Regions from separate parts of the Homo sapiens genome. Here region 2 is linked to region 1. The links come from fine-mapping of genetic effects on gene expression. A gene starts in region 1. The other region holds a variant in brackets. All regions are shown on one strand. Distances are from middle to middle. Region 1 holds the start of BRAF (B-Raf proto-oncogene, serine/threonine kinase). Region 2 overlaps BRAF (B-Raf proto-oncogene, serine/threonine kinase).

Region 1 (5,378 bases):
GAGATTGTATAGCTAAGGTGTGGAGTGCTGACGCTAAAATCCTGATCTTTGGACTCCAAAGCTTATGCTTTCTCTCGTTTCTCATCTGGATACTGTAGGACTTTAGAATGGCCTAAGGAAGTAAAACAGGATATATCCAGAATTTTAAGGCAAGGTCAGAAAATGTCAAATGAGTAGAACGCTAAGAAGAATCAATATTAAATGGATGAGACCAGTCATCCTGTGGAGAAATAATCATGGAAGATCTGAACTACAGACTGATACTGACAAATAAGGCTAGAATTCAAAATGGAACCAATGTGAGGATAAAAGCCTTTAAAACTTTTAATGTTATAAGGAAGTGTTATAATGATATAACATTTTTAGCAGCTAATTTTTTAAAAATGAAATAGGACAGTTAGAGAATTAACAAAAATCTTGCCAGTTGTGTTTCTGATGAAAGGGTGATGAAAGGGTGATGAAAGGGGAAAAGGTGCCATGACTGGCTAATGGTGCTATTTCAGTCTGCTTCTAAGTATGTCCTTATAGTAAAGGGTGCTTCAGATTAGTTTAGCTTGATGACATCATCCCTTGTGATCATTTACTCTACATTTGCCAAGCCACTTTTTGATTTAAATTTATTTCCTCATAGAAACTTTCCTACTTGGAGGAGAATGTACAATGAAGTTAACAAAGCATACCATGTTCATGTTTTTTTTTTTTTGGAGACAGAGTCTGGCTCTGTTGCCCAGGCTGGAGTTCAGTGGTGCAATCTCGGCTCACTGCAACCTCTGCCTCCCAGGTTCAAATGATTCTCCTGCCTCAGGCTCCTGAGTAGCTGGGATTACAAGTGTGCACCACCACACCAGGCTAATTTTTTGTACTTTTAATAGAGATGAGGTTTCACTACGTTGGCCAGGCTGGTCTCAAACTCCTGGCCTCAGGTGATCCATCCGCCTCAGACTCCCAAAGTGTTGGGATTACAGGCGTGAGCCACTGCGCCCGGCCTACAATGTTCATCTTATAGGTTATATTTTTTCAATGCAGAAGAATGTTAGTATTCTCATTCATCAAGCAGCCTCACACAGCATCCTTTACCTGAGAGTAAGCATCAGCTCCCAGGCTTACGGTGACCCTAATCAATATGAAGACACCCTGTTTCAGAAGTCAGTAGGACACCTTTCTATTTCTTGAATCATCCAAAATACAGTAAGGAGGTCGCTGGTGACTTCCCCCATGATGGGAAGTACTAAAAGGCAGAATCCACTTAGTTTTTCATGACTTCATGTTTAGGTTACTTTGGTGATTCACTCCAGGCCATTGGGAGCCCACAGTAATTGTTTCTCATTCCCGTTTCTCTCTTCCTTAAACTTTTCTTTTCCAATTATTTATTCTTTATTAGATCCATGTATTTTTAATAATGAATTGAATTTCATTCTGTAATTGGGCTTCTCAAAGATAATTGACCTCTTCTCTCCCAATTGTTTTCATGCGTATTTTGCAGAGAATGCTTGGAATATTCTGTTCATGAAAGGCACAAAGTACATAAAATATTTTGAGTGATTTTCTTCAAAATAAAAATGATTAGTTTTGATGCTTCAGATGTCTAGAATGCTATGTGCCTTGTACAGGCCCTACGGCATGGAAAGTGCTCAACTGATATTTGTTAAATGAATGAATCTGGAAAACGAAAAATACACGAAATATTTTATTCCTCAACAATGAAGAAAAAGCTTTCAGACTTCCATTTAGACTCGTTTTAACTGGCTGAATTCTTCAATGAAAAGAAAACACGCGTCGCACTGCTAATTTAGCTGTTCCTAAATATATTTCCATCAAATTCTGCTTGGCTGTTTCAACCTTGGGGTTGAAGTTCTTATTTTGATGACACAGAGACGTTCATTGCAGTGGAAATAGCAAGTAGTATTGGCTTCCCCGCCTTCCTCCCTCTAGGATTTCAACTTCTCCTCCTCGAACACCAGCCCTGCTCTTCTAGTAAATCCCACATTACAGAACAGGCTGAGGACGGAGGAGACAAGAGGAAAGTAGGAAACCGGAGCCATGGAAACGGCGGAGCGGAGGCAAAGTGTGAGAGCGCGGGTGGTTAGAAGGGAAAAAACCCTCCCCGGACGACGGCGCGAAGGCGCGCCTCAGATTACGTCACGCACCGGGGTGACGTCACGACCGTGACACGCGGGTGACGCCGTTGCCGCGGCGACTTCTCGTCGTCTCCGCCCCCTTCCCCCGCTCCCCCCCGCACCCCCGCCTAGCGTCCTTCCCCCAATCCCCTCAGGCTCGGCTGCGCCCGGGGCCGCGGGCCGGTACCTGAGGTGGCCCAGGCGCCCTCCGCCCGCGGCGCCGCCCGGGCCGCTCCTCCCCGCGCCCCCCGCGCCCCCCGCTCCTCCGCCTCCGCCTCCGCCTCCGCCTCCCCCAGCTCTCCGCCTCCCTTCCCCCTCCCCGCCCGACAGCGGCCGCTCGGGCCCCGGCTCTCGGTTATAAGATGGCGGCGCTGAGCGGTGGCGGTGGTGGCGGCGCGGAGCCGGGCCAGGCTCTGTTCAACGGGGACATGGAGCCCGAGGCCGGCGCCGGCGCCGGCGCCGCGGCCTCTTCGGCTGCGGACCCTGCCATTCCGGAGGAGGTGAGTGCTGGCGCCACCCTGCCGCCCTCCCGACTCCGGGCTCGGCGGCTGGCTGGTGTTTATTTTGGAAAGAGGCGGCGGTGGGGGCTTGATGCCCTCAGCCACCTTCTCGGGCCAGCTCCGCGGGCTGGGAGGTGGGCATCGCCCCCGTGTCCCTCTCCGTCATGCAGCGCCTTCCTACGTAAACACACACAATGGCCCGGGGGGTTTCCCTGGCCCCCACCCCAGATGTGGGGATTGGGGCAGCGGTGGTTGAGCGGGAGGCTATCAATAGGGGGCGAAACTCAGGGTTGGTCCGAGAAGGTCACGATTGGCTGAAGTATCCAGCTCTGCATCTCTGTGGGGTGGGGGCGGCGGCGGCCTCGACGTGGAGGATATAGGTTAGTTGCTGGGGCTGAGACAACAGCCCGAGTTACTGTCGCGTGTAATTCTTACATGGTCGTGGGGATGATGGGGCTCATCATTTCCTCTCTCCTCTCCCGGACTGCCCCCCTTCTCAGTCCGCTGCCCTTTTTCACTTTTCTATTTGGGGATTTCTCTTCACCTGTTTTACCCAGCAAATTATTTTGATTTAGTCTTTACTTTTTCAATCCTAAATCGCAGTTTCCGATGCCTTTTCTGGTCTCTGGTCCTCTGTTCCTAATGTTTGTCAGCGCTCTGTCGCTGATTGGTAACCCCCATTCTATTCCCATCTACCGCCCGCTCATTTTCCAGTTGTCGGACCTGCCTGCCTTCTAACCCCAGCTCCCACTTAAGAGCATTTTTGCACTTCTCTTACCCTGGTCCTCTTGAGGCTCTGTACTTGATCTCACCACTCCCTAACATTGTTGTCTGTTGTTATCTTCACAAATCCTCCTGGACACTTTGGAGCTACTTGTTTTCTGAGCCCAGAAGCTGTCAAGATTCCATCAGGTTTCACTTGGCTCTTTTCGCGCTTGCACTACTGGCACTTTTTGGCTAGTCGTCCATTGTGCATTCACACCTCTTTATTCCTACCCATTTTTATAGGTCTGATTGATTTCTTAGTGTTGTCCTCCTTTTTGTCCTATTTTTTTCCTTTTCCTTTTTCCTCTCCAGTCCTTGCTTCTCTCAGCCTGTTTTTGCATTAGTCAGCCTCTTAGCACTGTGTCAAATTATTTACGTTTTTTTATTACATAAAATTTATTACAAATATTTGGTATTTTATTACAGAAAATAATACTTTATTATGCTTTACAAATAAGATATGGTATAATAATTGTGGTTTACAGTTATTGATTAGGTAATGTGACTTACTCTGTTGACTTTGCTCGAAGTTCTCTTTGCTACTTACTATTAACATCTAATTTCTCAATTCTCATAACATCTCATTCTCTCTGCAATTTTTTTTTTGCATCATCATCTTTGGAAATTCATCCAATATGCTTGCTTTATTCAGCATCAGCTTGTTTATGATAATGTTTGTTTTCTACTCTTTATATCATCTTTGTTACATGCCCAAAATGTGTTCTGTACCATCATTTGATCTGTTCTAAAATTTCTCATTTTTAAGTTTCTTAAAATCATTCCACTTTTCAGTATGCATTTTTGCTTAGATCAGTTTCCTCTCATATCTGTTCCTTTCCCCCAGCTTCTTGATTTCTAAGGAGAAAGCTCTTCTCTACTTCAATTTCCTAGTTTATTCTGTTTCCCTTGTTTCCAGTTACCATTCATTTTGCCTTGTTTCCTGGCTTTTGGTACTTAACTTTCTGAAGCTTCCTCTTTTCTTCTCCACACCTCCACGTTCCTTCTTATTTATAAACATCTTTGTTTCCTTTGACATGGAAATTTATTTTTAGGATACATTGTTTTTAATGGATAAATACTAGGGGTCACATCTGCTGTCTGTTTTCTCCAGGAATCGGATATGCCTTTGTCTTAACCAGGCACAGGTGCCTCTGGATTTTATTTTACTCTGTAATAGATGTGTAGTTTTGTTGAATTGTATCTTGTTTGAAGACTACTACAGAGTGGAACAATGAGTGAAGTAATAAGTAGGGGTTATGAAATTGTAATTCTCTGATTATAAAATTGTTTATCTTGGGAACTTTGCTGCAGAGTTATTAGAACCGTTTGCAATTCTGTAAAGAAGGCTTTTGTGAAGTAAAATCTCTACCCTTCTATTTTATTTGAAAGGGCCAGATTGTTTGGAACTGTACCCCCTGAAGAGTCTGATTTAGTAAGTGAGAGCGAGGGCCATGGATTTCTGTATTTGGCACATGTCTTGAGCAGTTCCCATGTACCAATCCTTGAGAACCTCTAGGCTAGCTGAATTTAAGTATAAATTGCCAGTAATTGGAAAGCATATTCATATCTTCTGAAACTATAAGGATACTCTCATTTTACTTGGTTAAAAAACAAGTGTTTCCTACTGTCCTCTTTACCCAGGTTTTAATGTTTAGTGGTGAACAGTAGTTTTCCCTCTACATTTTTTTCTGAACTGATAATAAATGTATTTGGCTGGGAGGGTGACATTGATTAAAAAATGTATCTCTTGAATGTAAATATCAGTATTACAGATGATAAAATAAATTCCTCCAAGAAATAATTTTAAATTTGAAGTTGATATTCAGTGGAAACTGAAATGTGCTGTGGTCTTTTATTTGAAGTCTTCCTTACATTCACTTAAAGGGATCTTTTACTGCAAATTACATGGAAAGAATGAAAAGGTTTGCTTGTGTGTAATGACACATTTTATTCTGAAGATTTATTTTACCTAACAGTAAAATGTAGGTTTTTTTTT
Region 2 (5,378 bases), 86 kb after region 1:
TTGTGGTAACTCTGTTTTACACTTTGAGGAACTAACTGCCAGACAGTTTTTCAAAGTTGCTGCACTATTTTGTATTCCTAACAGCAATGTATGAGGGTTACAGTTTCTCTCCATCCTCATCAACCCTTGTTATTATCTATTTGTTTTTTTAATTAAAGCCATCTTAGTAGGTGTGAATTGGTATTTCATTTGGTTTTGATTTGCAGTTTCCTAATGACTAATAATATAGAACATCTTTTCATGTTCTTGTTAGCCATTTGTATATCTTCTTTGGAGAAATGTCTATTCAAATCCTTTGCCCACTTAAAAAAACTGGGTTTGTCCTTTTATTACTGAGTTGTAAGAGTTCTTTAGGCCAGGCATGGTGGCTCACACCTGTAATCCCAGCACTTTGGGAGGCTGAGGTGGATGGATCACTTGAGTCCAGGAGTTCGAGATCAGCCTAGGCAACATGGCGAAACCCCGTCTCTACAAAAAATACAAAAATTATCCAGGCGTGGTGGTGCATGCCTGTAGTCCCACCTGCCCGGGAGGCTGAGATGGGAGGATCGCTTGAGCCTGGGAGGCGGAAGTTGCAGTGAGCCAAGATGGCAGAGTCACCCAGGCTGGAATGCAGGGGCACCATCTCGACTGACTGCAACCTCTACCTCCTAGGCTCAAGCCATCCTCCCACCTCAGCCTCCCGGGCAGCTGGGACTACAGGCATGCGTCACTGTGCCTGGATAATTTTTGTATTTTTTGTAGAGATGGGGATTTGCCATGTTGCCCAGGCTGGTCTCGAACACCTGGACTCAAGCAATCCTCCCGCCTTGGCCTCCCAAAGTGCTGGGATTACAGGTATGAGCCACCGCACCTGGCCAGGAGTTCTTTATATATTCTAGATAGTAGATCCATGACTTGCAAATATTTTCTCCCATTCTGTGGTATTTTTTCCCACTCTTTCAATTTTGTCTTTTGAAGTACAAAAGTTTAAATGTGGATGGAATTCCAATTTATCTATTTTAAAGTTTAAATGTGGATGGAATTCCAATTTATCTATTTTCTGTGGTTGCTGTGCTTTTGGTGTATCATACATGAGAGACCATTGCCTAATCAAAGGTCAGGATGATTTACTCCTGTGTTTTTTTCCTAAGAGTTTTATAGTATTAGTTATATAGCCAAAACAGGTTTAGTTGCTTGCTGCCTGCAGAGTCCAATTAGTAAGAGCAAAGTCTAGTATAAAGTGACTTTTTTATTCCAAAGTTAGCTTAAAGGAAGAAGACGTACAGGCTTCCTGCCTTAAGGGTACTGCTTCCCTGTTGGAGCAGAAAGTGGGTGCTTTTAAAGAAGGTGCCTACACGGGGGCAGAAATGAGCGGGTGGAAGATCTGCATATTCCCTTCGGTGCCTTCTTTCTCAGGCAGTCAAGTTGGTGGCTTCATGGGCAAAAATACCTCAGAGGTGGCTGAAAACTCTAGCAGTCTTACTTTTGGTTGTAGATCAACTATTACCTCTTGAGGCAACTTCCTGACGGGTGAGAGTTCCACTCAGGATTGTCTAAGCACATAATTAGATCAACTTGCCTTGTAGGGAATGTCTGGTGAAAAGGAGATAAAAGGCCATAATTGCATTTCTTTTATTCTTTTATCTTTTTCTTTTTGAAACAGAATCTCATTCTGTCACTCAGGTTGGAGTGTAGTGGCATGATCTCGGCTCATTGCAGCCTCTACCTCCTGGGCTCAGGCGATCCTCCCGCTTCAGCCTCCTGGGTTGCTGGGACTATATGTGCATGCCACCATGCCCAGCCAAGTTTCATATTTTTTTTAGAGATGGGGTTTCACCATGTTTCCCAGGCTAGCCTCAAACTCCTGGGCTCAAGTGATCTGCCTGCCTTGGCCTCCCAAAGTACTGGGATTACTGGTGTGAGCCACCACCCCTGGCATATAATTGCATTTCTAAAGAGCTAAGTAGGAAGTGGGGAGGAGGAGGAAAGAAAAAAATAATTAAACTTTTTCTTAGAAAAATGAGGGTGCTCAATTATATAATAGATATGTGACCCATTTTGTTTTGTTTTTAATTTTTGTAAAGATGGAGTCTATGTTGCCCAGTCAGGTCTTGAACTCCTGGCCTCGAGTGATCCTCCAGCGTTGACCTCCCAAAGAGCTGGGATTGCAGGCGTGAGCCAACATGCCTGGCCT[A/G]TTTCGAGTTAGTTTTTGGATATGTTGTGAGGTAGTAGCCCAACTTCATTCTTCTGTGTGTGGATATTCAGTTGTACCAGCGCCAGTTGTTGAAGAGACCATTCTTTCTGCATTGAATTGTCTTGCTGGCTTTGTAAAAAAAAAAAATCAATTGACTGTAAATGTAAGGTTTTATTTCTTGTTCTATTGAGAAATAATTCACATACTATATTATTCACTTTTTTAAAGTGTGTAATTCAGTGGTTCTTAGTGTATTTACACAATGGACAACTGTCACCACTATCTGATTCTAAAATATTTTTATCATTCCCACAAAGAAACCCTTCATGCATTGGAAGTCATTCCCTCCAGCCCCTGACAACCACTGATCTACTTTTTGCCTTTATGGATTTACTAGTTGTACCTTGTTCTATTCTGTTCTATATGTGTGTTCTTATTCCAAAATTATTGCGCTGTCTTGATTACTATAGTTTTATAGTTAAGTTTTGGAATCAGGAAGTATAAGTCCTCCAACTTCTTTTTTCTTTTATAAGATTGTTTTGATAATTTCAAGTCCGTTGTATTTCCATATGAATTTTAAGATCAGCTTGTCAGTTTCTACAAAAAAAAATTGAGATTTTGAGAAGGATTGCATTGAATCTGTAGATCAACTTGGGAAGCGTTGTCATTTTAATGATATTAAGTCTTCTTAGATTCTTTTTTCTTTTTTGAGATGGAGTCTTGCTCTCGTTGCCAGGCTGGAGTGCAGTGGCGTGATCTCAACTCACTGCAACCTCCGCCTCCCAGGTTATCAATTATTACTAATACAAATATTTATTGGATTTTTGCTATGTGGTAGTCTCTACAATAATTTGTTTTACTTGTGTTATCTCATTTAATCCTCACAAAATTATTTTGAAGTTGAGAAAAATTTGCCATATAAAGAAGAGTATGATAAAATATTCTAAAGGAGATAAAGAGAAAGGATACCTCTTCTGGATTTTGACAAAGAGAGCTTAGAATTAGACTTTTTGAAAAATATTTAGAGTTTTGATGAGAAGGAATAGGGTTTTTGAACAACTGTCTCCTGAAGAAGTGGTATCTGGTATCTGCAGCATCTTGAATAACCAAAAGAAATGGTGGTGGTGGTTGTGGTTGAGGTTTGCACATATGTTGGAGTGGCTTGCTCATATTAGTAGAGTGAGAAAACAGAGGAAAAGGGAAAAGTAGATGATATGAGAGAAAACTGAGGGAATGGTAGACTAAGGCCCTAAACACCCAATATTAGCACTGAAGTGAGAGTAGAAGAAGAATGGGGAAAGATGTGGAGAATTTTGTAGATAAAGAAGTAGAGTAAACTTTTCATTTGATGACTTTGATCTTCAGAGTGGATTTGAAGGTAATGTTATTTTCAGAGTGAATTAAAAGTTGAAGGATGAAGTTAAGATCCAGAGAAGAATTAGGAAGATTGGAATAACTGTTTTGACTGTAATATGATGTTAAAAACAAGCATGATTTTCAGGCAGTAGTGTGAAGGACCAGGCAAATCTAAGTTCCATAAATTGATCATAGAACTAATTAGACCAGTTTTATTATTTTCTCCAACAGTGTGTGGTAACCTGACAGGAAAAAATAGAACAATTGAATGGTCAGACTTACCCAAAATTTGTATCTGGCAAGCTAGTTGATAAAATAACAAGAATTAGCCTGAAAATCTTAAGATATCACCAATGGCATTGTTGTAGTTGTGAGCCGCAAAGTATGTGAAGGAAGACAACAATGGCCAAATCTTAGCAACTGTTTGAGAGATTAATGTTGACCTTGAACAGATTAATGTAATGAGATAGACATTTAAGAAGTTGGGATAAGTATGTGTGCCCCAGGGGTGCGTGAGGTTCTAAATCGAGATCATTTCATCATTTTTATTGCTTTTGTAAAGACTGTGATGCTTCTCCGGGTCTTAAAGGTAGAATGGAAATAAATGCTTTTAGAGGTGAGAGGTTTAGAGAAATCTATGGCAGTGTTAAAAGAGTAATTGAAGTTCATATTGAATGCAGCAAGGGCAGTAGGTAAAATGAGCCAGGGGCCTTGGTAGATTGCAGCTTTGAGGATAGGGACAGATGGAATAAGTAGATGTTTTGTACTTAACAAAAGGAAAAGCTATTGATAGATGTGGTGAAGTGATAGTTTATAATCTGTCATGGAGGGATCAGTATACTTTCAAAAATTAAAGCTAACATTTTGGTAAGGAAATATGTTTGGAAAATTGTTCTTTTCATTACTTTTCCTAAGGTTTATTTTGTCTAGTAACTGTACTTGCTCAGGTGACAGTAAATAAGAATATTTTATCCATGCAGGAGGAACCTTTGTGTTCCAGACTGCATTTATGTGATCTTCAAAGAGTAGGAATTGTGTTTGTCTTATGTGTGGTTGTAGTCTGAGCCCTAACAGTGCCAAGCACATGTATCAGTATATATTTACTGAGTGATTGAAGGCTCAATAAATAAATTTTATTGAGAGAAGTATGCTTAAGTAATTAGGCCTTGGTACTGAAAGCTAAACCAAATTGTAGCTCAGAAAATTTGGAATCTATCTGTTTATAATGCCCTCATCTACTATGAAACAGGGTCTGGGTAGGGCAACTAGCAGGCTGTAAACAAAGAAGACCTTTTGATGAAGTTTAAATCTCTTCCTCAGTAGCTCTTGTTACTATTCCCCGCCCCCCTTATTTGTTCGAAAGTATGTGGTAAGATGCAGCATAGCAGGGTCCTGTGGCCCTTATTGAAATGAAATTTCTCTTTCATTCTCCTCTACATTTTATAATTCTCCCTTCCTCCCTTACATTCAGACTTGATAGCATGGCGTATATACTCTCTACAATCTATTCCCTTTCACCTTTTCAGCCTTATTGTTTCTTTACCTATTTTTCATTTAAATTTCTTTCTTTCCTTTTTAAGAAAACAGGGATGCTGCTAAAGCTTCATTTAAATTTCACAAACATATATTGATCTTTTGCTATGTCCCAGGTATTGTATGACATTGAGCTATACCTATCTATAGTTTTTCATGTGTCTTAAACTTTCTCGCCTTTGTTACAGAAAAAACAAACTCTTTGTTACAGAATTTTTCCCATATAGAGGATTCCTTCCTCCCTACTTTCTTCATCCATCTAAATGCCAACCTTTCAAGGCTGTCCTCCTTCCTCATTATTACTTTGTGTCAA

Evidence for each region. PIP is the estimated chance that this variant, and not a neighbour inherited with it, causes the effect.
Region 2: its variant is fine-mapped to the expression of BRAF in whole blood (TOPMed, PIP above 0.99).

Annotation. Positions count from the first base shown.
Region 1 is chr7:140,921,805-140,927,182 of GRCh38, reverse strand. It overlaps BRAF (B-Raf proto-oncogene, serine/threonine kinase), which reads left to right and starts at 2,254. Exons shown (of 18, transcript NM_004333.6): 1 at 2,254-2,617. The coding sequence starts at 2,480. LOC105375536 (a long non-coding RNA gene) reads right to left here and starts at 2,091. Exons shown (of 5, transcript XR_002956518.2): 1 at 681-2,091; 2 at 1-112. RefSeq lists a silencer at 2,362-2,431.
Region 2 is chr7:140,835,990-140,841,367 of GRCh38, reverse strand. All of the region lies in intron 2 of BRAF (B-Raf proto-oncogene, serine/threonine kinase), which reads left to right. Among named protein-coding and RNA genes, the nearest start is that of BRAF, 86 kb to the left of the region's middle. The variant A/G (reference allele first, on the strand shown) is at 2,177.